Homo sapiens: one gene and its partners. The protein of the gene in region 1 interacts with the protein of each later gene in a biochemical or structural test. Each region holds a gene or a part of one and is shown in the gene's direction. Other genes may lie near its edges.

Region 1 (5,734 bases):
CTGACCATAGCAACACTTTCAGAACAAAGGCCAGATCATGTCACTCCTCTGCCAAAGTCCTTGCAAGGCCTCAATGCAGTTGGCCTCCCTGCTACCCTCCTAGCCCCACTGCACTCTGTCCACACTCCCTTAGGGCTGCGGCTCACCCTTGCCTAAGGCTTCCCCCTAACTCAGAGGTCCTTAATCAGAATCACCCGCAGGGCTTATTAAAACACAGATGCTGAATTCCAGCCCAGTTTCTGATTCAGAAACTGATTTGAGTCTGGTGTACGGTCCTAGAATGTGCATTTCTAATGGGGTCCCTGGTAAGGCTGACACTTCAGGACTTGTTGCTACAGTTTTAGAAGTGCTGCTCCAGCGTTCTCTCTGCTGATACGGCTTTTTTTTTTTTTCTTCTTTTAAAGATAGAGTCTTGCTTTGTTGCCCAGGCTGGAGTGCAGTGGCACCATCTCGGCTCACTGCAACCTCTGCCTCCTGGGTTCTGGCGATTCTCCTGCCTCAGCCTCCTGAGTAGCTGGGACTACAGGTGCGTGCCACCACACCCAGCTAATTTTTGTACTTTTTGTAGAGACGGGGTTTCACCATGTTGGCCAGGCTGATATCAAATTCCTGACCTCAAGTGACCTACCCACCTCAGCCTCCCAAAGTGCTGGGATTACAGGCGTAAGCCACCACGCCCAGCCCGCTTTTGCCCCAGATACCCCACTTAATACTACAACTTGCTCCCCTCCTCCCCTGCACCCCAACCTCCTTCCTACTCTATTTTTCCTTTTTTTTTTTTGTCTTTTCTCTTTTTTTTTTTTTTTTTTTGAGATGGAGTCTCACTCTGTCGCTGGGGCTGGAGTGCAGTGGCGCTATCTAGGCTCACTGCAACCTCCGCCTCCTGGGTTCAAGCAATTCTCCTGCCTCAGCCTCTTGAGTAGCTGAGATTACAGGCGTGTGCTACCACACCCAGCTAATTTTTGTATTTTTAGTCGAGACAGGGTTTCACCATGTTGGCCAGGCTGGTCTCAAACTCCTATATCAGGTGATCTGCCTACCTTGGCCTCCCAAAGTGCTGGGATTACAGGTGTGAGCCACCATGCCCGGCCTAAAGAACTTCTTAAACATTAGTTACACACACATTTTTTTTTAAATGGAAAATCATCTGGTGGTGCAATGGCTCCCAAATGCTGGTGACCTAAGACCAATGATGGCAGAATAATTTTTTGTTTGTTTTGTTTGTTTTTTTTTGTTTTTTGAGAGAGGGTCTCCCTACATCACCCGGGCTGGAGTGCAGTGGTGTGATCATAGCTCACTGTAGCCTCAACTTCCCAGGTTCAAGTGATCCTCCCACCTCAACCTCCCAAGTAGCAAGGACTACAAGTGCACACCACCATGCCAAGTTAATTTTTTATTTTTTCAGAAACAGGGGTCTCAAACTCCTGAGCTCAAGGGATCTACTTACCTCGGCCTCCCAAAGTGCTGGGATTACAAGCGTGAGCCACTCACCTGGCCTGCTTGTTGATTTTTTTGAGACAAGATCTCTGTCGCCCAGGCTGGAGTGCAGTGGTGCCATCATGGCTCACTGCAGCCTCCACCTCCAGGGCTCAGCTAATCCTCCCACCTGAGCCTCCTGGGTAGCTCAGACTACAGATACATGCCACTATGCCCAACTAATTATTTAACTTTTTGTAGAGACACGGTCTCACTATGTTTCCCAGGCTGGTCTTGAGCTCCTGGGCTCAAGCAATCCTCTCACTTTCATCTCCCAAATTGGGCAGATTTTCCGTCTTTATCAAAGCCCCCACTCACCCACCCCTTACCCCCCACATCTCCAGATAAGTGTGAGGCATGGCCAGGTTTAAGAATTTCTGTGAGAAGCCTTACCTGTAGAGAAAGATTCAGGAGAATAAATTCCAGGGTGTAGCTTTTTACACTTTGCAAAAATGTGACCACACCCATGGTCATTTATCACTACCCACAAGCTCTCAGGCTGACCAGGCAAGATCACCGTCTCCCTTTCACAGAGCAGAAAGCTGAGGCCCTGGGGAATCAAGTAATACTCCCCGCTCAACACTCAACAGTCACAGCTGGTTGGTGGTGGAGGTCACACACCTGTGGGTGGCAGAGATATGATTAGAACTTGGGCCTCTGGCTGGGCGCAGTGGCTCATGCCTGTAATCCTAGCACTTTGGAAGCCTGAGGTGAGAGGGTCACTTGAGGCCAGGGATTCGAGATAAGCCTGAGGCCCTCCTCACTCCCCCACGCCGCCCCTCCCCCCCGCTCCCTTCTCTATTTAAAAAAATAAGAAGAAAGAGGGAAGAAAAGACCTTGGGCCCCTGAATTCTCACTCTAGGGCTCTCCCCTCTACATCAACTGGATAAACCCAAGTTCCAGGAAGTCCCAAGGATGCCACAGGTCGGGGGAAGGTCAGAGAAGGGAGAGAGAGTGTCAAATGCGTGGAGGGTAAGGTTCTGGGAGGCTGTCTCCTGGCCACAGGAAAGACTCCAGTTGCCCTAAGGACTTGGAAAACACATGGCATTCACACGCTAACTCTGGCTGCCTGTGACCTCAGGACAGCCACTTTCTCTTTGTGTGCTTCTCCTTATCACTGAAATGGGGCTGATAATCCATGCCCTGCCCCCAACAAAATACTTGTAGAATGTAAAGCACTTTAAAAGTCCAAGTTATTATTGCTGTTATCAAGAGAAGGCCCTTTGGGACAGAACTTAAATAGCCTTGGCCGGGCGCGGTGGCTCACGCCTGTAATTCCAGCACTTTGGGAGGCCGAGGCGGGCGGATCACGAGGTCAGCAGATCGAGACCATCCTGGCTAACACGGTGAAACCCCGTCTCTACTAAAAATACAAAAAAAATTAGCCGGGCGTGGTAGCGGGCGCCTGTAGTCCCAGCTACTCGGGAGACTGAGGCAGGAGAATGGCGTGAACCCGGGAGGCGGAGCTTGCAGTGAGCCAAGACAGCGCCACTGCAGTCCAGCCTGGGCGAAAGAGCGAGACTCCGTCTCAAAAAAAAAAAAAAAAAGAACTTAAATAGCCTTTCTTTCATCTAAGGGACACTTTTGAGCATCTACCACATACCAGGCACTGTGCTAGGCACTGTGCACACATGCCCTCACTTACCCCTCACAAAGGGTCAGTGCTGCTGTTCTTTACCTTTTACAGATGAAGAAACTGAGGCTCAGCTGAGAGTTGCAATTCATTCCATCATTAGTTCATTCACTCAGCTTTTACTAAAAGCCTGCTCTGGGCCAGGCTCTGGGCCAAGTGCTGAGAAGAAGAAGATGAACAAGTCCTTCAGGAGACGTGCCCATAAATTAATAACAACTAAGTACATGCTTCAACAGACAAGGTGCAGTGGGAACTAGAGGGGGAGCAACAGGCTCTCCTGGGGGTTATGGGAATGGACAGCTGACCTCCTGCGGGGACCCTGCACCGCTAAGGTGCATGCGCCCTGTGTAGCTGTGCAGTCTCACTTTGATCAAGGCTTTGCTGTGTATTTCCAGGAAGCCTCTTCCGCCACTGAGCCTCGGTCTCTACCTGGAAAGTTAAAAGGTTGCGTAGGCCTGACATCCTGCAGCTCTTGGGGGGCCTAAAACTCTGGCCCTCCCACCCCACCTTCTGGTCAGTTCAAGCTCTACCCCAGCCAAGTCCGATTCCGAAGCCCTGAGGGCCAGACCGAATCCCTCCGAAAGTGCCAAATACCCCGCCCCAGGGCGGTGCTCAGAGCCTGGGGCGTGGCCGGAGTCCCAAGGGGCGGGGTTCCAGTGGGAGGGGCGGGGCCAAGACCTAGATGCAGGCGTGCGCGGCCCGCCCAGAAGCGTCTCGCCCAGCCAATGAGCGTCCGAGGGCGGGGAAGCCCCGCCTCTGGGTATAAGAATACGCCGAGCCCAGCTACGCGACGCGGAGGTTTCGGAGCACTACAGGTTGCGGGCCTTTGTGACCCCAGGCTGCGGCCGCAAGGTGCGCAGTAGTGGGCTGGGCCGGGGCACCAGTCGGGTTTGGTTTTGCTCCGCCCGGCCGAGCTGCAGGGACCGCACGGTGCCCGGGTCTCCCGCCGCAGAGCAGCCGCTGGCCCGGGCCGGGGGAGCCGGCGCTGACCACCGCGCGCTGTCCCCGCAGGCAGCCGGCCTGCCGCCATGGCCGACCACCTGATGCTCGCCGAGGGCTACCGCCTGGTGCAGAGGCCGCCGTCCGCCGCGGCCGCCCATGGCCCTCATGCGCTCCGGACTCTGCCGCCGTACGCGGGCCCGGGCCTGGACAGTGGGCTGAGGCCGCGGGGGGCTCCGCTGGGGCCGCCGCCGCCCCGCCAACCCGGGGCCCTGGCGTACGGGGCCTTCGGGCCGCCGTCCTCCTTCCAGCCCTTTCCGGCCGTGCCTCCGCCGGCCGCGGGCATCGCGCACCTGCAGCCTGTGGCGACGCCGTACCCCGGCCGCGCGGCCGCGCCCCCCAACGCTCCGGGAGGCCCCCCGGGCCCGCAGCCGGCGCCAAGCGCCGCAGCCCCGCCGCCGCCCGCGCACGCCCTGGGCGGCATGGACGCCGAACTCATCGACGAGGAGGCGCTGACGTCGCTGGAGCTGGAGCTCGGGCTGCACCGCGTGCGCGAGCTGCCCGAGCTCTTCCTGGGCCAGAGCGAGTTCGACTGCTTCTCGGACTTGGGGTCCGCGCCGCCCGCCGGCTCCGTGAGCTGCTGAGGGCGGCCGGCGCCCGCCCGGCGTGCCGGAGAGGAGAAAGGGCCCGACTGCCCGCCGGACCCTGCACCCAGCGACTGGGCCCCGCGCGCGCCCTCCGCGAGGGTGGAGGCGGCGGCTGTGTGCGCAGGGCCCGGCACCGGACTGGGACCCTGGCGTCCCTCCAGGCCTTGCCTCCTGCGGGAGGACAGTTTGGCTTCACTTCTCTGACCCCAGCCTCGGCCGTAAAGTGAAAGAGACCGGACCAGCTTCAGCTTTCGGACTCTGGTTCTTGGATCGTGTCCTCTCCCCCTCGCCGCCCTCTTCCCCCAATCTGAGCCATTGCAGGCCTCTGCCTGCTGCCCCCTCTCTCCTCGGGATCGGGTCCCCAGAGCCACCATCTCCTGAGCCTCCCACCCCGCTGCCTGGGCCCTGTGGTTGCTGGGCCTCCCACCTCAAGGAGGGGAAGGTTGTACAGCCCGAACCCGTGGAGCAATGCCCTGTCTGGCCTCCAAAACCAAAATAAAACTGGGTCACTTTACAGTCTTGCCGTTTTCATTTCCTTATCACCCCGAGCCCTGACTATATTTAGCTTCCAAAGTCCCAAGGTTGCTGAAGACACTGGATGGCATGGGGGCCACAGTCCCCAGCAGTGCCCAGGAGAGGAAACCGACAGTTTCTTTCAAAAATATCTCGTGGGTTGTGCAATTGTTATGTCACAACCTGGAGGGCAGAGGCTGCCACTGGGTGGTGGGGTAACCCACTGGGCTTCCCAGCTCCTAGGGTAGGGTGGGGGGAGCTTGGTGCTCTGCCAGAGAGGAGCTGGGTGGCACCGAGTTCAGACAGCCTAGCTTTGGACCCTGACTCTCTCCTTTGCCCAAGACACCATCCGTTCTGATTTTTGAGGCGGTTTCCCAGAGGGAGATGGTCCCCGTCTCCTCAGGTAGTTACGCTGCCTTTAGCACAGTGCCAAATACCTGGGCAGTTCTCAGTAAGTGACGGCAATTATTATTCTACAAATTGGTGCTGATTTTATTCCAGGCCCTGTGTCAACCTGGTGCATGTT
Region 2 (7,028 bases), on another chromosome or scaffold:
TCTGGGGCCCACTCCGCTCGGATGCTCAGCGCCTCAGGGGTCACCAATTTCACCACCCATCTCTAGAGAGCACCCTTGACGGCGAAGGGGAAAGGGTCAAGGCAGAAACGCAGGCCAGGCTGGCTGGGGGAGGGCAGGGCCGCCTCCCGGCCGCCGGGTGAGGTAGGGAAGGGCTCGAGCCCGAGGAAGGGAAGTAGCAGAGCCACAGAATTTCAGAGCCGGACGGAAAAGCGGGGACTGTGGCCCAAAGCCTGGGATCCGGCCCTGGCCGGGATGAGGGCCGGGGTCGGGCAGGATTTGGGGGTGATCCACGACGCCCAACACGCGGCCTCCCCTCTGTCTCCGCAGGCCCCGTGTCCCTGTCCAAGTCCAACAGCAATGCCGTCTCCGCCATCCCTATTAACAAGGACAACCTCTTCGGCGGCGTGGTGAACCCCAACGAAGTCTTCTGTTCAGTTCCGGGTCGCCTCTCGCTCCTCAGCTCCACCTCGAAGTACAAGGTCACGGTGGCGGAAGTGCAGCGGCGGCTCTCACCACCCGAGTGTCTCAACGCGTCGCTGCTGGGCGGAGTGCTCCGGAGGTGAGGCCCGGCACGGCCCCGCCCGCCCCGCCCCGCGGCCGGGGGAACCACTGCGCTTGCGCCGGGGCGGTGGCGGCGACGCAAACAGGCCTCGCGCCGCGGCCCTCCCTACGCGGGAAAGGAAAGGGGGCGGGGAGAAGAGCGTAGAGCCAAGTGGGCGGGATCTGGGGGCGGGGGAGCGGGCGATGCGGCGCGCGCCTGCGCTCTCCGCTGCTTTCCCGCGAGCGAGTTCTGGTGCGCGCTTCGTTCGCTGCCGCGCGCTCGCGGAGTCCTCCGCTCCGCCCTCCTCCTCGCGCAAGCGCAGCTCGCTCCGCCGCGGGCTCAATCCCGGCCACTGCAGCCGCGGGGCGCCGTACAGCCACCTTTTCCCTCTTCGCGCACACCTTGCAAGCCCAGGAAAAGTTCCTCTCAGGCTCCTCGCTTTGCCTTACCTCTCTGAGTAGGGTCTCCGAGGGTAACCGGTCGTGCCTTGTATAGGGTTTTAATAGAATGGCTTTTAACTAAAGGAAGAGAATGGTTGTCCTCTTGAGTCCGCACGCCATGCTTTCCGGTCGCTGTCATCTCCAGACCCCCATACTATAGGCGTTTGCATATGATGATGATTCCCAATTTACTGAGGCCCTGATGTGTGCCAGGCTGCGTGCGAGCATGTTTACGTGCATTGTGTGTAGTCACTACCAAGGAATGCATCTGTTACATACATAGCCAGGGATTCTTACCTCACCCCTGCGAGGTTTGAGTGATTCATTTAGTAGATAAGATTTTATAAGGGTCAGCAAGGTAAAGCACCTTCCCTTAGGGCAGTTTTCTCCCTGCTGTGGGCTTCCTACCCCTAGGATTCCACTGCACGTTGTGAGTTGTGGGGCTTGTGTTGAACTTACCCGGATAATGTTTCTTCTCTTCTTTAATAATACTGAGAACTTCATTGTTTTGACTGTTATTCATTTACTTATGTGTTGATAGACCCACAGTTCCTTTCTAGTGGCTATATCCCGCACAAAGCCTATAAAGATCATTTTTTGGAAGGGTTTAACATCAACCATTCTAGTCTTTTCTTCCTCCTGCACAGTCATTTTGCTTTCCCTTTGTAGTCTTTCACTGACACAGATCTTTTCCTTGCCCTCTGCTTTTTCCTTCCCTTCCCCCATCCCCAATATTGGAGACTGTTTACCTAGGGGAGTATAATCTAATCCACACAATTAAAGAGCACTTGAGTAGGGAATAAAATCTGAAATTAATTAATTTGCTGTTTTATTTAAACAATTTATCTTAACCACTTTCTGATTATGGGATTCTATTTAGACATCTGTTTAGAACTGCCTCCATTGTCTCTGAAATCAGTGAAACTTTTAGGGCTGATATCAGCTTTTGACATTTCCAGTTAGGCTGGTGACATGGCACGTAAACAGTTGGCGAAACGAATTTCCCTTTGGGGCTAGAGCCAGAGCAAGAAACGTGAGAGTGATGATAACTTTGGTTACTCGGAACAACCTAACAGCATATCTTGCAAAGACAGTTTTAAAGACCCCATTGGGATTGGTGTGATTGTAACAGCAGAGAAAATATACAGGAATCAGTTGAACTCAATACCTCAAACCCTAGAGATGGGGCTGTGTTTGTTTGTGGTTCTTCTTTAGAGAGTTGGGAAATCAAAACCTTCCAACCTGCCACAAGAGTTGCAATAATAACTGAACGTAGGGGGTGCTTTACAGTTTAACAGGCGTTTATCTCCTATGAACTTCTGTACTATTCCTAGGTTTCCCTCCTTTAAATGTCTTGGGGCCAAGCTTCTCAGTTTTTGAAAGCACATTTTAGGAAGCTTTCAAAATGATTTTAATGTGGTGCAGAGCAACCCAATGTTTTCTAAATCCCTTTCTCGCATATATTTGTGAAACAGGGCGAAGTCTAAAAATGGAGGAAGATCTTTAAGAGAAAAACTGGACAAAATAGGATTAAATCTGCCTGCAGGGAGACGTAAAGCTGCCAACGTTACCCTGCTCACATCACTAGTAGAGGGTAAGCGAATCCACTTGCTAACTAGAAGGAACTTCCTTCTTGGAAAATGGATAATATTTAGTGGCCAGATGTTTGGTCGTATTTTATGTCAGTTGGGCAGTTTCATCTTTGCAGAGAATATAGCCAGATGTGAATGGAATTATTTCATGGCAAAAAGAAACATTTGCATGTACTCCTATACCTCCATCCTTCTTCCTTCTTTTCCTCTACCATAAAGTTACACCTCCCCAGCCTAATTCTGAGCTAAACAACGCACAAGTTTAAGAACTGCACATTCTCCAAGTTTGTCTCCTTTAAAGGGCTCAGCAGTAAATAACTTAAGTTATTCTGACATCTGCGTTTGAGAAATGCGTGACCATTACTTCCTGAATTAATTTGGGAATCTTTGACCTGCGTCCTGATTTAAGACCATCCTGAAAGCTCAGGGTTATGTGCCCTTTCAGGTCTTTGTTTTCCAAACATATGCTCCCTTATCTCTTTAATTGTGCTTTTCTCTTGGAGAAGAAGAAAAGTGAGCAATTTTTGATTCTGGATGATGTGGATATGGAAAGATAAATATAAGCATTGCAAAAAGTTTCTCCTGGTAGCTTTAAACATACATACACCCTTCCAAATGCCTCAAAACAAAAAGCCAACCCTTATCCTCACTCCCTGCTCTAGATAACTGCCACCGGAAGCCACTCATATTCCTGCTGCCTCTAGATTAAGTTTTTCTGATACAAGATTGGCCTAGGTTTTGGTGTACTGGAATGAATCTATAGCTCTCCTGTGTTTTTCTTTGTGTCCTATTGTAAATATCTCATGCTAACAGGGAAAAAAAAGTTACTTTAATTACCAGACAGATTTTAAAACTAGCATGTATATATATTTAAAGAAGTCATTTTATTTCATTCACATCTTGTATTTGAGGAGATATATTACAATTGAATTTAAGTTCTGGCTTTGTAAATTATTTTTTAAAATGTTTAAAACCATATATTTGAGGAGGAATCCTATGAATTCTCTTTGTTGATGATGTCAGAGATTGATAGTAATATAACTGTTTAGAAAATCAGCAATTGTTCAGTGCCAGAAACTCAACTACAGTACCATTACATTAAAAATCATAACAGTCCATAGAGAACCCACTATTCATACTCCAAAAGAATTATAAGCCAAGAAAATGGTAGTGGTGGCTTAAGGTATAGCGTGGAGTTCGTCTGGGTTTGGGGGTTGAGTTCTGTAGCAGGGAGGCAGTTTCTGGAGAACTGTTATTGTTTGTGATCCGCTCCATTTTATGGAAACAAGCTCTGCGGAGAGGGCTTTGATGCTCTAATTGGCGCATGCGTTCTTCCGGAGCTGGAGCTAATGGCAGGAAGCCCTGCAGTAAAAACCAACTGGTTCAGGAAATTAAAACCAAAGATTCGAAAATCAACAACACAGACAGACTCAGTGGAGTGACCCTCAAATCCTCTTGGTTAATCGGTTTGGATGAACAGATAATTTATGTGATCAAGTTAAAATGTAACCCCTCAGTTGTTCCCTTGCAGAAAAGCTCAAAGAGTAATTATGAATATCATTTATGAATGTGTTGATAGGTGTGAAGTTGGAATACAAGAAGCATTTTAAAAGAGAATTTGGAGAAGTGTCATTTAGGGTGGGGGATGGGACTGGAGGTTGGTGGATGAGATTTTCATTTTCAAGTCTTCTTGGCCCTCTAGGAGAAGTGGTCATTTTTCCTGATAAATGCATCCACCAGATCCTACAGAGAAGGAAATAAAATGCCTGAAATGAGAAAACAAGTAGTTTGTGTTTCCTGCAACATCTGGGGTGAAGGGAATTAGGGAGTTGGGAGTGGGGAGGAAGTTAGGATCCCCACTCTTCATTCTCTCGCACTGGCTCCCTCCTCTCCCCTCTTGCCAGGAGAAGCTGTCCACCTAGCCAGGGACTTTGGGTACGTGTGCGAAACCGAATTTCCTGCCAAAGCAGTAGCTGAATTTCTCAACCGACAACATTCCGATCCCAATGAGCAAGTGACAAGAAAAAACATGCTCCTGGCTACAAAGTAAGGCATTTACCTCTATGGGGTCTCTGTGTCTCGTTGTCAAGAGAAAGAGAAACAAAAATCGTTTTTGCTCTTCCTTCTCCCTTGTTTTCCTTTTGTGTTAATCAGCTTTGTTGCAGTTATAACACCATCTTATATATAGTCTATGTTAAGGAAGAAATACAGGTGGGATTCTTGGGCGCTCCCATCTTTTTCCTCTCATCTGTCCCATTTACTCATTTTTTTTTTTTTTTAATGAGTGTGTATGGGAGTGGGTTGTAGGAGGGGTTTGACTGAAGTTAAGGGTGGATTTGTGACTATGTTGTTTCAGAAAGACCAGAATCAAATCCTCAAAGGGGTAACAGGCTTACCTATATCAGTTTTTGTATCCTATCAATATGTTCTCCAAGGGCAAAGATTAAACAGTGGCCTGCAAAATGTGCAAGCCAGAAGCTGTCCTAGTTTCAACCCTAATCTGTTATTCCATTTCTTACCTTCCTTTCACAACCCCTTCTCGAAAGTGACACACACACACACACACACAGACAGAGAGAGAGAGAGAGAGAGAGAGACCCACACCCCACATAAGTTTTAGCCCACAGGCGAGAAGTCAAATAGATTTCAAAATGGCCCAAGTTATATTCCCATCGGTGCCTGGGCTGAATAGGCTTCTCCAGGTGATGTGTGAAAAGAAAATGACTGTTTTGATGTGTTTTCTGGAAATTAAAAGGCTTGTTTGGAAGCCCTTAATTATCAAAGTTGATGTCACAGGAGGGCATGGAAGCAGAGGGCAGAAGCTGAGGCCTTGGGTGGGACCCTGTTTCTGGCCTGGGGACATCAGCTGGCCTTGGAGAAGGGAGCCAGCCCAGGCTCCTCATTCATCCCCCTCCCCAGCCCCCCAGGCCAGGCTGCTGCTGCCCCTGGAAGGCCCCAGCTAGCCCTTGCTTCCCAGATTCAGAGACAGAGCTTCCTGAGTGCAGGCCTCATCTACCTCTGCGAAATTTCAACTTTCTCTTTCCCCAGGCTTCGTAAGCACACCCATCTCCACAATTTCCCTGCAGTATTTTTATTTTGAGCTATGTGGGGAAAGAGGAGGAATGGGAAATCGAAATGTCTGTTTCTTCTTCCCAAACACTACTTTGAATTATCTCCAAGTAACAGGGCTTGTGTGGGCCCGTTTTGTTTTTTTGTTATTCTTGTTTTTTAAAGGCAAAATAATCCCAAGTAAAGTTTTGTCTCTCTGTCCACATTGACCTGAATTTGATTTGAAGGTGAACGAGTGTGGACTTCATTCTACAAACTGCTGCTGAGGTCTCTCTAGAGGAGCAGGGAAGAGGGTCTTTATGACATTTTGAATAGGAAGGCTGATGGCTGCAGCATAATGTTCGCAAGATGCTACTGTTTCTGACTTCCGGTCTGCGTGACTCCTTTCTTTCTCTTCCAATGTGTGAAATGGTTTCCTATGTCTAGGATGTTTTGTGTGAGGGAGAAAGGTGGGAATAAAAGTTTACCATATCTGAGAGGAAAGAGAGAGAGAGTCATTTGTGAAGGTAGGAAGTAAAGAGAGATGGTTTAGTGGTCACTGAAAGGTGGCTGGATCTCCCAACATGTGGCCACACTGTCTGTCTCTGGGGTCTTGGGTCATGTCAGGTACCGGCTGGATCCCGGCAGAGGTAGCTGCAGGGAGGGAGGTTTTCTCTTTGCTGCTAGTGCTGCCCATAGTGGAGCCTTATGTCTCTCTCTCTGCTCCACTTGTGCTGCAGACAGATATGCAAAGAGTTCACCGACCTGCTGGCTCAGGACCGATCTCCCCTGGGGAACTCACGGCCCAACCCCATCCTGGAGCCCGGCATCCAGAGCTGCTTGACCCACTTCAACCTCATCTCCCACGGCTTCGGCAGCCCCGCGGTGTGTGCCGCGGTCACGGCCCTGCAGAACTATCTCACCGAGGCCCTCAAGGCCATGGACAAAATGTACCTCAGCAACAACCCCAACAGCCACACGGACAACAACGCCAAAAGCAGTGACAAAGAGGAGAAGCACAGAAAGTGAGGCTCTCCTCCCGCCCCGCCCCTCCCACGCCTCACCAGCCCCCCGCGCGCCCACCCTCCGGCGGGTGACAGCTCCGGGATCAGCAACCCTTCCTGCTGCTGCTACTGCTGCTGCTGCTGCCGCCGCCGCCGCCGCCGCTGCCCTTGGGTCCCCCCGAGTCTCCGGGACTGCCCTCTCGACTGTCAGTGGGGCAGCCTCTCCGACTCTGCACCCGCCTCGACCTCCCCACCCGCTCCCACACCCCTGTGCCCTCATGTGGAGCCTAAGAGAACAGAACAGGCCGTGAAGCCAGCAGAGAAAAGTTCTGCCAAGTTTGTGAACCCTTTTTTTTTTAAACAAAACAACAAATCAACAACA
Region 3 (7,424 bases), on another chromosome or scaffold:
AACATTAGTCCCTCCTATTTTGTTTCCTCATACCAAGTCACTGAAACCTATATGGTATCAAAGCCCTAGAAATCTGAAGGCAGGTGCTTAAATTGTAGTTTCAGACATTCAACAGTATTTTGTTTCCAAATTGATGATAAAAACACCTACTGAATCTTCCCCAAAAATATAATCATGAGAAAGCTTAAGACAGAAACATGGTAGGAAAATTAGGAGCCAGACTGCAACAGTAAAAAATGGAGCTGTCATGTTTTATCATTTTTTAACTTATCAAGATCTGTTATATGGATGTCGTGTCTTATTATTCAACTCAGCAGACAATAATGCTTCTGATGGGTAAGAGGTGGGGCAATATCTGAGGATGCTGAAGTAAGACAGTTTTTCCTTCCTCTCTTCTTTCCTTTGCCTACTTATAAATCCAGGACTATAAAAAATAACCCTGGACATACTCAATGATCCAAAAATACTGTCTTCTTAACTTCAGAAGGAAAGAAGTAAGACAGCATCATGAGACTGTGGGCAAAGCGTTGAGTACACAGTCTGAAGACCTATATTGGGTTTCCCACCTCCACTTTCTAACCAGGAGTTTATTGCAAATCCCTGGTTTTTAGAAGCCTCCACTTTCCTGACCCCCCGCTAAGTGTTTTGAGACAATGATGATAAGTTAAATTGTTTATGAAGCAATAGTACCACATATATTTACCCACAGATACTATTTTAATAAATTTTCACAATCATTTCCATTTTGTAGTTCAGTGCACTGAACCTCAGGCTATTAAATAGCCTGCCCCACCGCCTAGAATGAGAAAGGCCAGGGTGCAAACTTGGCACAATAATTCTAATTCTTGACTTTTCTAATTTTATTATTTTTGTGCGTTGGGTAGATGGAAAGGGGAAACCCAGGGAGACTGTGTAATGGAAAAAGAAAAGGTGGTACAGTGGGCATCTGCAAAGGAAGATAGTTCATGGAGTGTTAACCCACAGGTGCAAAGGTGAGGGCTAGTGGAAGGAAGGAAGTCAAATAAATTTAGATAATTCATAATTAGATTTTTAGAAGAAAGATGAAAGAAGACATGAAAGTGCTCCTAGTTGACCTTGATTTAATAATGATATTTTTCTGTACATTTTTTAAAAAACAGTCCTGAACATACTTCGAAAATCACCAGCAGAGGGCTTCATGCTGGGTGCATTTGCTTTTAATTATAGACTCCGACATTTACTGAATAATATTCCCTCTATATGAGGCTGAAAAAAAAAGAGGGTATGAATAATTCTTTTCTTTGCTGTTTTAAACTGAAATAAATGCAAATGAAAGAGGAAAGTACGAGTGTTAACTATCTGGGATGTCTCAAGTGCGGTTCCACCTAGGAGAGCATGTGCGTAACCTGAAAAAGAAATATGGACATAAGGCAAGATAAAATAACGAGGAAAATGCATATTTTACTCGTTTAATTTCCTTCAAATCCAGAGTTTGTTTTGCCTTTGTGTTTCCATTTACTGAGTTCTTGCGGGAATAGTTTCCCTACGTCATGTGATTGAGTGATAACGCGAAAGGTAATAGAAAGTAAAAGCAAGAGAGGTAGGTTCAAGTTAGGAAAAATTTTCTCCGTAGCGGCTGAGCTTTTATTGTGCGTTTCTTCGGGCGTTTGAACTTTTTAGATGCTGGAACGATCGTTTCTAAAATTAGTAAATATCATAAGAAGTGAACTTTAAAAATGTTCCTCTCAATACCAGGTTTTCAAGAACGGAAAGAAACCTTTGCCGAAAAAGAAATCAAGGAGACTTGCAGGGTTTGCGTCTATAAAATTCCGACAGAGGGCGCTGTTGCCCGTTCAATGACAGGGAACGGTCCGTGGGAACGGTTTACCTTGCAATGTCTAGGACTTTTCGAATAACGCCCACGTTAAAAAAAATAACTAGGATTTTAATTATGGTTATGTATTTTGAAGGTATTTCTCTATATATATGTGTATATTTTTAGGTTTATGCTTCATTCTTAATAAAACCAGATTTGTTATTTTTCAGGTTTCCTAAAGAACTTAAATTTTAACCAAATATCTCAAGATATTTCCACTTTAAAAAATACCTAATACTAGCATAAAATAAAATTACACATAAAAAGTTTGAAATTATTCATATATAAGGCTATAAAATAGTTATACTAACACAATACCTTATATTATTTTAATTTATGTGTAAAATTATCTCTTGCAGGTTTTGTTTTGTTAAATCTCAGAGTTTATTTATTTTAGACTAGGCAATAATATACCAAAAAGATATTAAAAGGTGTTAAAAGCATTTAGAGAAAAAAAGTGAGATTTTTCCAAATGCATTTTATTTGGGTTGTAATGATCTTTAGGTAATAACAATGACAGAATTATTGATTTGAAAGGGAGAAAACAATTATTTCCATTAATTAAATGTCTTGTGCCTGGAGAATCTGAACTTCCAAGTCTATAATATTTATCTTTCAGATTATTGATCTGGCACTGATTTTAGTTCTAGAAGTCAGGGGGTGTGGAACCCGTTTCAAGTCCCACCACACAATAAGATTAAGAAAAATCCCTTCTCATCTCCTAACTAGCTCTGGAAGCAAAGAAGAAAATCTTTGCTGATGCTCCTAGTGAAAAATCTGTATAGATTGTGTATGATTTAAGGTTAACATTTAAAGGGGAAGAAAGGAATGGAGAGAGAAAGGAAGGAACGAAAAGGGAAATGAAGGAAAGAAAAAAGGAAAACAAAAAGGAGGAAGAGGAGAAAAGGAAAGACGAAACATAAAAAATTCAACCGGAAATAAGGGGTTTATTTCTGAAGTTCCTTCTGAAGCACCTTCTTTGTGTTCTTTTCCTTTGACTTATCTTTAAAAATTAAATTAAAAATCTGCAGAATTGTTTATTCTGCAGTTCATGAAGCTTCTCCTTGGTTTTGATTGAATCGACGTCCAACAAGGTTGTCCGGAGCCCTGTACTCAAACAGCGTCCATCCCTGTTCGCGCAGAGCTGCACACAGCAGTCCTGGATTTAAAGACAATCACCCTTTGCAGATTCACTCTCACCAGGCTTAATAACTTCCACCCCAAATTGCCCCATCCCTCCTCGGTCCCTCCTGGCATTTCTTTTCTGTCCCAGGCGCAGAGATCCTCTTCTGGGCGTCTGTTCCGGCTATGAGAAGCTCTCCGCACCCTGAAAGGGAGTAGAAAAACAGAGGGGATGGGAAAGGGGGAACAGGGGAACAGATGAGTATTCATTTCATGATAAAATTCAGAATCCCTGCGCCTTAAATGGTGCCCATTTTCTAAGTCTGGTTAATATTGTTCTTGTTGCTGATGATGTTTTCCTTTTTAAAAACTATATGAATCATCTTATTAAGAAAAATTATACAAAAAAAAGAAGAAACTCCACATGCACTAAAATATTTTTCACTATCTCTTTGAAGACATTCTGCTTAAACCTTTTCAAAGATTCGGGTGGCCCTTTCTTGACTCTCCATGATTAAAACCACTTACAAGTCATACACAACAGATGCAAATATAAAATGTCCTTGGCCTCTGCAAAAAAGGCTCAAAATTAACCTTGTCTGAACGTGTGCGTACGTTGCTTCCAACATCTGAAAAAAACTTGATAAAATGGAGACTCCAGCCAAGAGGAATGGTGCATGGAATCCGTTGAAAATGCATACAAACAACACCTAAAATAACAAGCAGCACAAACTGAGGTGTATTTAAGTTTCCAAAGGTTTTAGGTAAAATGACCAGAAAATATTAGAAATGGTCATCAACGGTGGCTAGCTTTTTTGTTCTATGGTGACAGAGATAAAGTTAAAAAAAAAAAAGTTGTGTAGCCATCAACACAGAGATAGTCCTTAAAATCCCCCATATCCAGCCTTTCAAAATACTCTCTTCCGGAACATACATGAATAGGAGGGAGCTTTTGTGTTTAAAAATCTTGGTAAGTGTCCCCCTTTAAAATCTACATAGAAAATAGGGGACTGATGGCCCCTGGTTTCTCATTATGAATTGCAAAGACTTCAGTTAGTGGCTACAATGATGTGTCATTTTCGATATAGAAGTTATAAAATGTATATATTATATTAATCACCCTGAACAACTCTTTGTTAAATGCACATTTGGAGTCTGCAGACTGTGTGACCCAGAGGTGCTTATATAACTATATGTGGGTGTCTGGGTGTAAATACGGGTTTATGATTTTTATAGTATATATGTCTGTGGGTTGCATCTAACTCCTGTGTGTGCAATAATGTTTTTTCTCTTTGCTGAGGCTTACTTGTCCAGCCTATTGTTTGAGACAACAGATATAAGTTGCGATGGGAGAGGAGCGTCGGATTTGGTGTGTATCCCCCATTTCCAATTATAGATGGATCATTACAGACAGCGGAGTCCTGAGAAGCCAGACATCTGCTCCTCACATGAATGCACTCACCTCCTAGAGACCAGGCTGCCATCATGCTCTGGAAGCTTGTGGAGAATGTCAAGTACGAAGATATCTATGAGGTGAGTCGACACCCCCAGATGCACCTTAGAGCTTTGCAGATAGAGAATTTGAGCTTCTTGATACCCCAAATGATATATATTTTTAAGCTATTTACTCGTAGATTTCCGGTCGGTTTTCTCAGCTTTTTTTAACTTTTAGAAAAGCTGGCTAGGGAAGACTTCGCTGCTCTGAAAAGGGACTTTAAGGCTGAAATCTGACAACTTTAATTTAGGAATGTTTTTATTTATTTTATTTTTCTTTCCCTTTTCCTCGCCTCCCCCCACCCCACCCCACCCTTTTAAGCTCTGATGGGGAATGTGGTGCTACTGAATGTGGGCACGCTCTCAGAGAAAATCGAGATTCTGATAAAGTCAGGGGCTTTTCTCGTTTTAAGTGTGGAAGAGAATTGGGTTTTCAAGCCTCATTTGTAACAGACTCGGGCTTTTAATTTTTATTTTCAATAAAATTTCTGAAATTGATAACAAATGGTTCCAAGTAGAGGACAGAGAATTAGCGGGAAAGAAGTAGATGGCTGGAGATATGGATGGATAGAGCAAAATAGAAGTCGTAGCAGTTTATTAGTTTCTGTTTTCTTGTGTTTTGCTTCCTTGAGGGTCACTGCGTCCGAACAGAAATCGCAGCCGCCTCCTGTGTGGGCATCTTTCACGGAAATTTCTGCCCACGTTCAATGCGTACGGGTCTCTAGCACTGAGGCTAGCTCAACTCTTCGGGGCAGGAGAAGTTGCGCCCAGCCAGGAGGACGCCAGCCGCCTCCGGGGCCCGGACCGCGCTCGCCAAAGCCCTTTTCCGGCTCGGGCGAGGGCTGACGCGGCCAGACGGCTCCGCTACTCGCGGGCGAGGCGGACTAGGCGGACGAGGCGGCCGAGGCGGGCGAGGTGGGAGAGGCGGGCGAGGTGGGAGAGGCGGCCGAGGCGGGCGAGGCGCGGGGCGCGCGGCGGGCCAGGCTGGGGACCGGGAAGCCCGCGGAGCCTCGCTTTTAAGCGGAATGGTCTGGGACAGCCCCAGGTGGTTGCCAGGGGAAGGGAGGAAGGGAAGGTTCTGCTGAGACGTCGAGGTTGGAAATAAAAACTTCGGAAAGGCGAAGCGGATTTAGAAAAGGAGGGAAGTCGAGGCGGGCGAAGCGGGCCATGGAGATTGCTAAGAGGAAAAGTTGGAGAGAAAAGGAAGGAAGAGAAGCAGACTCCCGGGTGGCGGGCGCGGGCCGCTAGGTCAGACGAAAGGTGGAGGGATGCAGAGGCTCCCCAAAGAGCCGAGAAAGACACGCGACCCCTCCGGATCGGGACAGCTCCTGAAAGCCCGGCGCAGAGCCGCCTCGAAGATCCTAAGAGTGGGCGACTCACAGGCGCGGCCGGCAAGCTCCTGGGGGACTCGGGCTCGGACGAGCGCCCACAGGCAGCGCCTGGCGCCCACACCTCCTGCCCCCCCCCGAATCCTAATGTTGGGGTGTGTGTATGTGTGGAGGTATGTAGGAGAGAGGAGGAGGAGATAAGAGAGGAGAGGGAGAAAAGCAGGAGAGAGCGCGAGAGAGCAGAGAGGAGAGAGATTGGTCTTGTTGCTGAATGATGCTTGGGGTTTTCCTTTTCTCTTTGTGGTTGTGTATCGACTGTAACGAAGAGCCGCGCCTACGCGCCTGGTGGGGATTGTTTCGGTTCGGCCTCCTTTTCTTTCCTTAACAGGCGGGATAATGGTAAAGTCCAAGGCGCTAGAACTGTCCTAAAGAATATTAGCGCCCAAAGTGGGCATGACATTAGCAAGCACGGGGCCATGGTGAAAACAGCTCAAGCTATATGCATGCAGAGGCATTTCAGTGGGTTCTAAAAAGTAACCAGGGTAACATTCGTTCTTTACAGAAAGTAAAGTAGCTAAATGGAAAAGGAAGGAGGGAGAGAAGAAAGGAGGGAGGGAGAGAGGAAGAGGGAGGGGTGGAGTGGAAGGGAGGGAAGAGAGAAGAGAAAAGAGGGGAGGGAGAGAGAGAAAGAGAAATAAACAGGGAGAGAGAGGGAATATTACAGGTGGTCCTATCTGCCTAAATTTTCTGCTCAAAAAACAGAATCCGCAGCTCGGTGGAAGGAGCCTATTTAAGTCTGGACTAAGGTTGAACTTTAACAGAAATGGCAGTCAGGCCAGTTGAACGGGTTCCTGAAACATCCAAAAAGGTTTTCTGTTGCCCCTGGCTTTGCCTGGAAAGGATAAGTTTAGTGTATTTGAAGATTGATGGCGTATGTTTTAAATTGAGGTAAAAATCGCAAACTATGTGAGCACTAAACAGGAAAAGGCTGCACAGGAATGAAAAGCCTCCATCTCGCTTCTGTCCTTTAACAAATGAGCATAATCTTCCACATTTAGCAAAAGTCTGCAAAAGTCACTGTAAATAACCAGGCCCACCAATTTGCCTTTCTCTCGCCTCCAAATGATGAAGCAACCCTTTTTATTTTGTTTTTGTAATCCTCACACAAAGCACCCAAGGCGACCAAGTCCTCCGGATTAGGGAAGTCTCTCTCCAGGTAGGAGGACACCTCCATTCTATACAACCTCCCAGCACTGTTCTCCCTCACTGCCTTATCCAAAGGAGCAGGGGCTGCTTTACTCGTGTCCCCGGCACAGTTAATTGAAGTTCTGCCTCTTTCCTGCTAAACTTTTTCCCCAGTCTGCCTTTGCCAGCCCCCTCGTCTGATTACATCTAGTAATTCTCCACTGAATGAACGTCATTTACAATAGTAGGGGAGCTCTGCGCTCGCTGCTGCTTCACGCTCCATTTGTCCTCTATTCTCCCTTTAAAGTACTCGTGTAATATTAATAGTCATGAATATCAATTATTATGAGGCGGTGTAGGCAAGCGGAGGGAGGAAGGGGCGGCCGAGCAGTCTGAGCCCAGCTTCGGGTGAAAGAGGACTGCATCTGGAGCCCCGAAGA
Region 4 (7,028 bases), on another chromosome or scaffold:
TTCTGACCTGCAAGAAAAGTTTTGAAGCAATTTGGCCTACCAAATGAATACCTGTAAAAGGAACAGAGCTTGGAATGATCTGTCAGAGGGAGAGTTTTGCAGGATGGGGAGGAGGGGATTTGGAAAATTGGATTACTTGGTGAGTGAGTGGTTTATGAAATTAAGTTACTTAACTGACAGGATTACCAGGATTACCATTTTGACTGTTTTGGGAAATAGAGTAGGCCTAAATTGAAGGTAGTTTTGGCCTGTTACTTGAACTGCTTAAATGGATTGAGGATGGAGGAAAAATGGATTTTAAAGAAAAACTCAGAAAAGACTACAAATTTTCAGTAAACTTAGAACGTATTAGTTTGGATGATTAAATTTACTGTGATCAACTGCACTGAAAAATTTTGGAAAGAATCTTAATGTGTCCTATGATTTTGGTTGTTCTTGAGGGGAAAAAACTCACCGTTTATTTAGTATTGAAGCAGTCTTCTGAAAACAAATGTTCTAATTAAATAGTTTTCAGCAGCTGCTAGGAAAAAAAAAAAAAGAAACCCTCCAAGCTTTGGATCTTCACTAATTAACTTCCCAAGGTGTTAACTTGTGAATTTCAGATTAGATTTGTCTCTGAAGTAGGGGGCTTTTTTAAAAAGTCAGCCATGGCCAGGTGCAGTGGCTGACACCTCTAATCCCAGCACTTTGGGAGGCCAAGGTGGGCAGATCACTTGAGGTCAGGAGTTTGAGACCAGCCTGGCTAACATGGTGAAACTCCATCTCTACTAAAAATACAAAAAATTAGCTGGATGTAGTGGTGGGCACCTGCTGGAGAATTACTTGAGCCCGCAAGCTGAGGCTGCAGTGAGCAGAGATCACACCACTGCACTCCAGCCTGGGCCACAGAGTGAGACTCTTATTATTTTTTTTTTTTAAATAAAGTCAGCCTGCAGTTGATCGTGGGGTGTGCAATGATGCTTGTCTAAAGATCACTTTCAGCTTTGGTTATTGGTTTTGAAAAGGTCTCTTTTGCTCAGAGAGAGCTCTTGTGACTGCCAGCTCTGACCTTCATTCACAGGTCCCATTTCCATGACCAAGAACCCTCTGAACCTCCCCTGTCAGAAGGAGCTGGTGGGGGCCGTAATGAACCCCACTGAGGTCTTCTGCTCAGTCCCTGGAAGATTGTCGCTCCTCAGCTCTACGTCTAAATACAAAGTGACAGTGGCTGAAGTACAGAGGCGACTGTCCCCACCTGAATGCTTAAATGCCTCGTTACTGGGAGGTGTTCTCAGAAGGTACTTGGGGCACAATTCTAGGCATAGTGGTTGGGTAGTTGAAGGTGAGTGTATCAGAGGCCCAGGAGGTATTTTTAACATTTATGTGACTTTATGCCTAACACTGAATTCTAATCGGGTTAGAGTTTTAGTACATTTCTTCTCCTTTAGAAAGTGCCAAATGTGGGAGGAAGTGCTAAAACGACGCTCACAAATTCTCACTTGGTTAGAATTTGATCCCATGTATGAAGTGATAGCATCTGTATTGAGGGGAGGTGGGGGGAGCACCCTGGGTTTGTTCCCCAGGGAGTTTTTGTGGGGCCGTTGTAGTTTCACAAGTGAAAATTTGTCTGCTCCCATACAATTTGAAATATTCGGTGATGCAGAGTTGGATGCTAGGAAAGATTGATTTTGTATCTTACGGGGACTAATTGAAAGAGGACCCTGCTATCACTTTTCATTATGGTTCACGTGATGTAGATAGTCTTTGATGGGTTTCAGCTTTGACAGCAGCACTTTAGGAGTTTAGAATTTTTAAAGTGTGCGTGTGTATGTGTTTTTGTTTTTGAGAGTAGCCAGAGTCAATTTTTCTTTTTCTTAGAGCCAAATCGAAAAATGGAGGCCGGTCCTTGCGGGAGAAGTTGGACAAGATTGGGTTGAATCTTCCGGCCGGGAGGCGGAAAGCCGCTCATGTGACTCTCCTGACATCCTTAGTAGAAGGTCAGTGGGGTTTTGTTTTTGGTTCGTGATGTTTTTAATTTGTGCCTGTGTCTTTAATACTTATTGCAGAAAAACTGGAAAACAACTCTTAAAACTTGGTTGCAAGTAGAGATGAAAGCAATTGGAATTGTTCTCTAAGTTTATTGGAATGAATCACAGTTAATTTTATCGAATAAGTTAACATTTAAGTATCTGGTTGCTCAGGTAGGCTCTTCTGTATTCCCCCAGAGAATCAATGTTGGAAAGAAACTGGTTTTCCTAACCTAAGAAATCACACTCTAGGGGTGTCGGCATTTCCTGTTAAATGAACCAGTTTTTTTGGAAGATAACAGCTGATCATTTGGTACACCTTGAGTAAAAGCTGGTTACTTACTGGTGAGCAGAAGTACTGCTTCTGTTTTTTGTAGCTGTGGGTTATTTTGTAGCTGGGGATTGTGGTCAGTGAAGAGAACCTCTTGTATACAATACGACTGGCCCGATTCACAATTCTATTCTTCCCTCCCATCCAAAGAAAAAAACTAATCGAACCCCTGGCCCACGCACAAGTTCCTCTTGCCAGTGCTAAGATAGTAGGACATAGCATTTCAGTTTCTTGAATGGGGGGCCCCTTTACCCCAACCTGGACAGTAGCCAAGAATGCAACACAACCTTTAAAAGGAGCTGAAGGGAAAGTAAAATAATTTTTTAAAAACAAAACAAAGCATGTTGTTACTGCTCCCGGGAAGAGTTGGACGCTGAGAGAGGCTTAGGGCTCTCACTATGGGCAGGGGAAGCCAAGGAGAAACGGGCTCCCCGTGGCAGTACCCTCTTTTGAAGACTTTCTTTCCTTGCTCTGATGGCGTGACGTGGTGCTCAAAGAGACTTGGCAGAGTCCCTGCTTTACCTTTTACGAGTGCCTTTGGAGGTCAGGGCAAGGAGAAAGGAGCTGCCTGTCTGAGAACAGCTGTCCTGCCTGTAGAATCGGCGGTTCTGCTGGGGTTTCTTGCTAGCCAGGCAGGGTGATTGAATAAGAAAGTGTGCTCCAGAACAATGGCTCTCCAAGGCTGCTTCAGTCAACCCAGGGGGCCCCTCCACCATCTGGGTTTTTGCAAAGCTCACCAGTCCTGCACCCTGGAGCCAGGGAAGGTACCTCTTGGGTGGGAGAAACTCTCTTGGTTGCCTCCCTTAGCTCTTCCACTGACTTGGACAGGGAAAAGGGTGCTCCAAGTTGGTTTTTAGGAGAAACATCCCTCCCATCTTTTTTAAAAGAAACATTCTAGAGATCTGCCCCTTCAGTAAAAAGGCACTATTAAAAAAAAAGTAAGCTGTCAGATGTCACCATTTTATAGAGAAGTGACTAGTTTGCTTTTGTCAAACATGTTTATAGCCCTTAAATTTTCCTACTTCCCCAAAATGATACTACTTAATATAAAGAGAAAACATGGGTATGTTTGATTATCTGTTGAGCAGAGGACTGGTAAACATTTTTCAAGTTTACTCATCTCAGTATCCATGGGGCACTGGTTCCAGGTCCCATACCAAAACCTGAGGATGTTCAAAATGTTATATTTGTATATAACCTACACACATCCTTCCGTATAGTTTAAATCATCTCTGCATCACTTACTTATAATACCTAATACTATGTAAATGCTATGTAAATAGTTGTTACATTGTATTGCTCAGGGAATAATGGCAAAAGTCTGTGTGTGTTCAGTACAGACACAACCATTCATTATTTCCCCCCCGAATCTTTTCAATCTGAGTTTGGATGAATACAGATTCTGAACCCACGGATACAGAGGGCTGACTTGATTGTGCAGTTAGAAGTTTCAGGGTCTTTTCTGCTCACATTGTGTGATCTCCACCCTCTATTCCTGGGGTGGAGGACCTACTGAGAATCCCTAGAAAGTTCTACCTACCAGCTGAGTTGTCTGCCCTGTATATGATTTCGTTCTTGCATGCAACGTATGACTGGTAGACAATGAATACTACTAGAAAGAGAGAAAATGGGGGCTGGGTGCTGTGGCTCATGTCTATAATCCCTGGCATGAGCCATTGGTTGAGACCAGGAGCTCAAGACCAGCTGGCCAATGTGGCAAAACCCTGTATCTACTAAAAATACAAAAATTAGCTGGGTATGGTGGTGCATGTCTGTAATCCCAGCTATTCAGGGGCTGAGGCACGAGAATTGCTTGAATTCCGGAGGTGGAGGTTGCAGTGAGCAGAGATCGGGCCACTGCACTCCAGCCTGGGCAACAGAGCGAGACTCCGTGTCAAAAAAAAAAAAAAAGAGAGAGGAAAAGGGCAGTTTGGCCTCAGTGACCACAGCCATCCTAAAAGCTGTTGCTGATTATTCTAGGTGAAGCTGTTCATTTGGCTAGGGACTTTGCCTATGTCTGTGAAGCCGAATTTCCTAGTAAACCAGTGGCAGAATATTTAACCAGACCTCATCTTGGAGGACGAAATGAGATGGCAGCTAGGAAGAACATGCTATTGGCGGCCCAGTAAGTATCTGAACTTGAATTTGATGATGACTCAATGCTCTAGACCTTGAGGTTGAGAAGATTCCCCCTCCACAGTCCCGATGGCTCAACAAAGAAATATTCTTGAAATAAATTAGGGTGGAGCAAAAGAAAATGGCAAGGGAGCTTCTTTTACAAAGTCAAATACATTAACTTTTTGTATGATTTAGAAGAGTGCATGACTCAGCCATGAGTATTTTTGAGCTGCTTAGTTATTCAACCCAAAGTAGTTGAGCTGCCCTTTCATTATTGTGTTAGCATATCTTACAAAAATGTGTTGAAAACCCGATTTGTTTTGTCACAACCAGTAAAGAGAGATTGTGTGCCTTCTACCTCCTGATAGCAAGACTTTTGTCTTTCAAATGTAAAGATCAGGGTGGATTTGTGGGCAAATTAACTGTCTCCAAAACGACTTAATGCAGCTGTGGGTTTTCTCATAGAAACCAACAGTAAGTTGATTTGAAAATGATGGTAAATGAAGCAGAACTAGTCGAGCCAGGAAATGGGGTAAAAGAGAGCGCAGTGAACCAGGCTGTGTCAGGAGTCAGAATTTCAGGGGGATGCTTCCTTCTCCCGGTTCCTCACGGAATTTGTTTATTGGAACCAACTTGTACCAAGGTAAACTGTCCCTTAAGCTCATGGGTTGGAATCCAGGCCCCATTACTTTTACCAGTCCTGGTGACCTTGGCCAGTTAGCTGGGGTTAAGTTAATCCTGTTGTCTTTTCTAATTGCAGTGAGGATTAAATAAGATAGTGCTTTAAAACAGCTTAACTCAGAGCCTGGCGCAGAATAGTTGCTAAGCGCAGCAGTTGGCTATTAGTATTAAATTCTCCTTCCTCGGGTTGAAGCAGTTGTGCTTGCCTCCCGGGCGCCAGCCTCAGTGTAGTTGGTTCTGTGCTCTTGACCTGTAAGGAGCTAGATGGAACTCATCGAGTCAACTGACTGTCTTCACAGGCAACTGTGTAAAGAATTCACAGAACTTCTCAGCCAAGACCGGACACCCCATGGGACCAGCAGGCTCGCCCCAGTCTTGGAGACGAACATACAGAACTGCTTGTCTCATTTCAGCCTGATTACCCACGGGTTTGGCAGCCAGGCCATCTGTGCCGCGGTGTCTGCCCTGCAGAACTACATCAAAGAAGCCCTGATTGTCATAGACAAATCCTACATGAACCCTGGAGACCAGAGTCCAGCTGATTCTAACAAAACCCTGGAGAAAATGGAGAAACACAGGAAATAAAATTGGAACGAAGAAAGGTTAGGAGAGTAGGGAAGGAACAGGACTGCAAAAATCCTTCTCCACCGCACAGACTGGGAACCCCTCCTGGCCTGGGGGAAGAGTTTGTTACCTACCTTACTATTTAAAGAGCCTTCACTGGTTCTGCATCACCCGCCCCTGGACTTCTTAGTTGTTTCTCTAGCGCTGAGCTATCTCCTAACTTTGGACCTATTATCAGAAGGTGACAAGTACTGGCTCTTTATTCATTAAGCTTTTTTTTTTTGAACCCCATTCTTTCCTTCTCTGAAAGTGGTGCTATAAGTTTTAGAATCTTTTAAATACATTCCCTGGGCCAACAGACCCACACACTTAGCCATTGAAATGTCAAATTGATGTGCCCTAGATCAACAGATCAACAATACCTTTTTTTTCAGTGTTAAGGTAATGGTTGGTTTTTGTGTCCGCTAAATATTTACCTTGAAAAAAAGAAAAGTGTGTATCTAGCTTCTTCAGAGATCAAGTCCTCTGGTAGGAGGCAAAGGTTCTATCTGCTTAGCAACTAGTTAATAAGTGGTATCTGACACACTCTAAACCCCGTGTTCAAACGGGGGCCTTCTGGTTTTAGGAAACTTGTAGAAACGAAGCCTGCTGATTGATTTTTTTCTCCTTTTTTTTTTTTTTTTTTTTTAACTTTGAAAGTTAACTCTTCAAATGGGAGACTCTTTGAAATGACATGTTCCTTTAAGGTACTGAAGCTTTATTTGCATATTTATTTCAGATGTTTCGAGTAAACTTGAAAAGGGTAGGCACGAAGCAATTTGTTGCTGCTTGTCACCCCCAAGTCCCCGTGGAGGTTCTGTATTTTAAGAAACAGTGCGTTGAGTGTACAGATTTTATTTATGCGTAATTTAATGGGGTCTGTAAATACTGGTGCACTTCTTACGACTTTTTTGAGACATGGGATCCAATTTTAATATTAACTTTTAATGGTGATGGGGTAATCTATAACACATCATAAGGTTTTATTCATATATATACAGGGTATTAAGAATTAAGAGGATGCTGGGCTCTGTTCTTGGCTTGGAAGATTCTATTTAATTGAAACTCTCTGTTCAGAAAGCAATAACTTTGTCTCGTTCCTGTTGGGCTGAACCCTAAGGTGAGTGTGCAGTACAGTGTGTGTGGGTGAAATGGAGATTTGGAATTGAACTCTCTGCCTGTAAATGTTCCCCAAATAATTGTTGTGTGTATGATACGTGTATAATAAAAGTATTCTTGTTAGAATCTGAAAGTCTGGCTATAGGTTTTTGTTTTTGCTTTTGTTTTAA

The links.
Region 2: the proteins of CITED4 (region 1) and TFAP2A form a complex in vitro, tested with the Homo sapiens proteins (one study listed by BioGRID).
Region 3: the proteins of CITED4 (region 1) and TFAP2B form a complex in vitro, tested with the Homo sapiens proteins (one study listed by BioGRID).
Region 4: the proteins of CITED4 (region 1) and TFAP2C form a complex in vitro, tested with the Homo sapiens proteins (one study listed by BioGRID).

What each region holds. Positions count from the first base shown.
Region 1 is NC_000001.11:40,860,531-40,866,264, reverse strand, and holds CITED4 (cbp/p300-interacting transactivator 4), read left to right. Parts: upstream 1-3,901; 5' UTR 3,902-4,137; coding exon 4,138-4,692; 3' UTR 4,693-5,211; downstream 5,212-5,734. UniProt on the Homo sapiens protein: Acts as a transcriptional coactivator for TFAP2/AP-2. Enhances estrogen-dependent transactivation mediated by estrogen receptors. May function as an inhibitor of transactivation by HIF1A by disrupting HIF1A interaction with CREBBP.
Region 2 is NC_000006.12:10,398,060-10,405,087, reverse strand, and holds part of TFAP2A (transcription factor AP-2-alpha), read left to right. Parts: exon of another isoform or gene 1-348; coding exon 349-580; exon of another isoform or gene 581-586; intron 587-2,477; coding exon 2,478-2,596; intron 2,597-4,498; coding exon 4,499-4,640; intron 4,641-6,382; coding exon 6,383-6,671; 3' UTR 6,672-7,028.
Region 3 is NC_000006.12:50,814,463-50,821,886, forward strand, and holds the start of TFAP2B (transcription factor AP-2-beta), read left to right. Parts: upstream 1-4,429; coding exon 4,430-4,510; exon of another isoform or gene 4,511-4,564; intron 4,565-6,969; coding exon of another isoform or gene 6,970-7,015; intron 7,016-7,424.
Region 4 is NC_000020.11:56,632,293-56,639,320, forward strand, and holds the end of TFAP2C (transcription factor AP-2 gamma), read left to right. Parts: intron 1-1,060; coding exon 1,061-1,277; intron 1,278-1,857; coding exon 1,858-1,976; intron 1,977-4,317; coding exon 4,318-4,462; intron 4,463-5,435; coding exon 5,436-5,721; 3' UTR 5,722-6,991; downstream 6,992-7,028. UniProt on the Homo sapiens protein: Sequence-specific DNA-binding transcription factor that interacts with cellular enhancer elements to regulate transcription of selected genes, and which plays a key role in early embryonic development.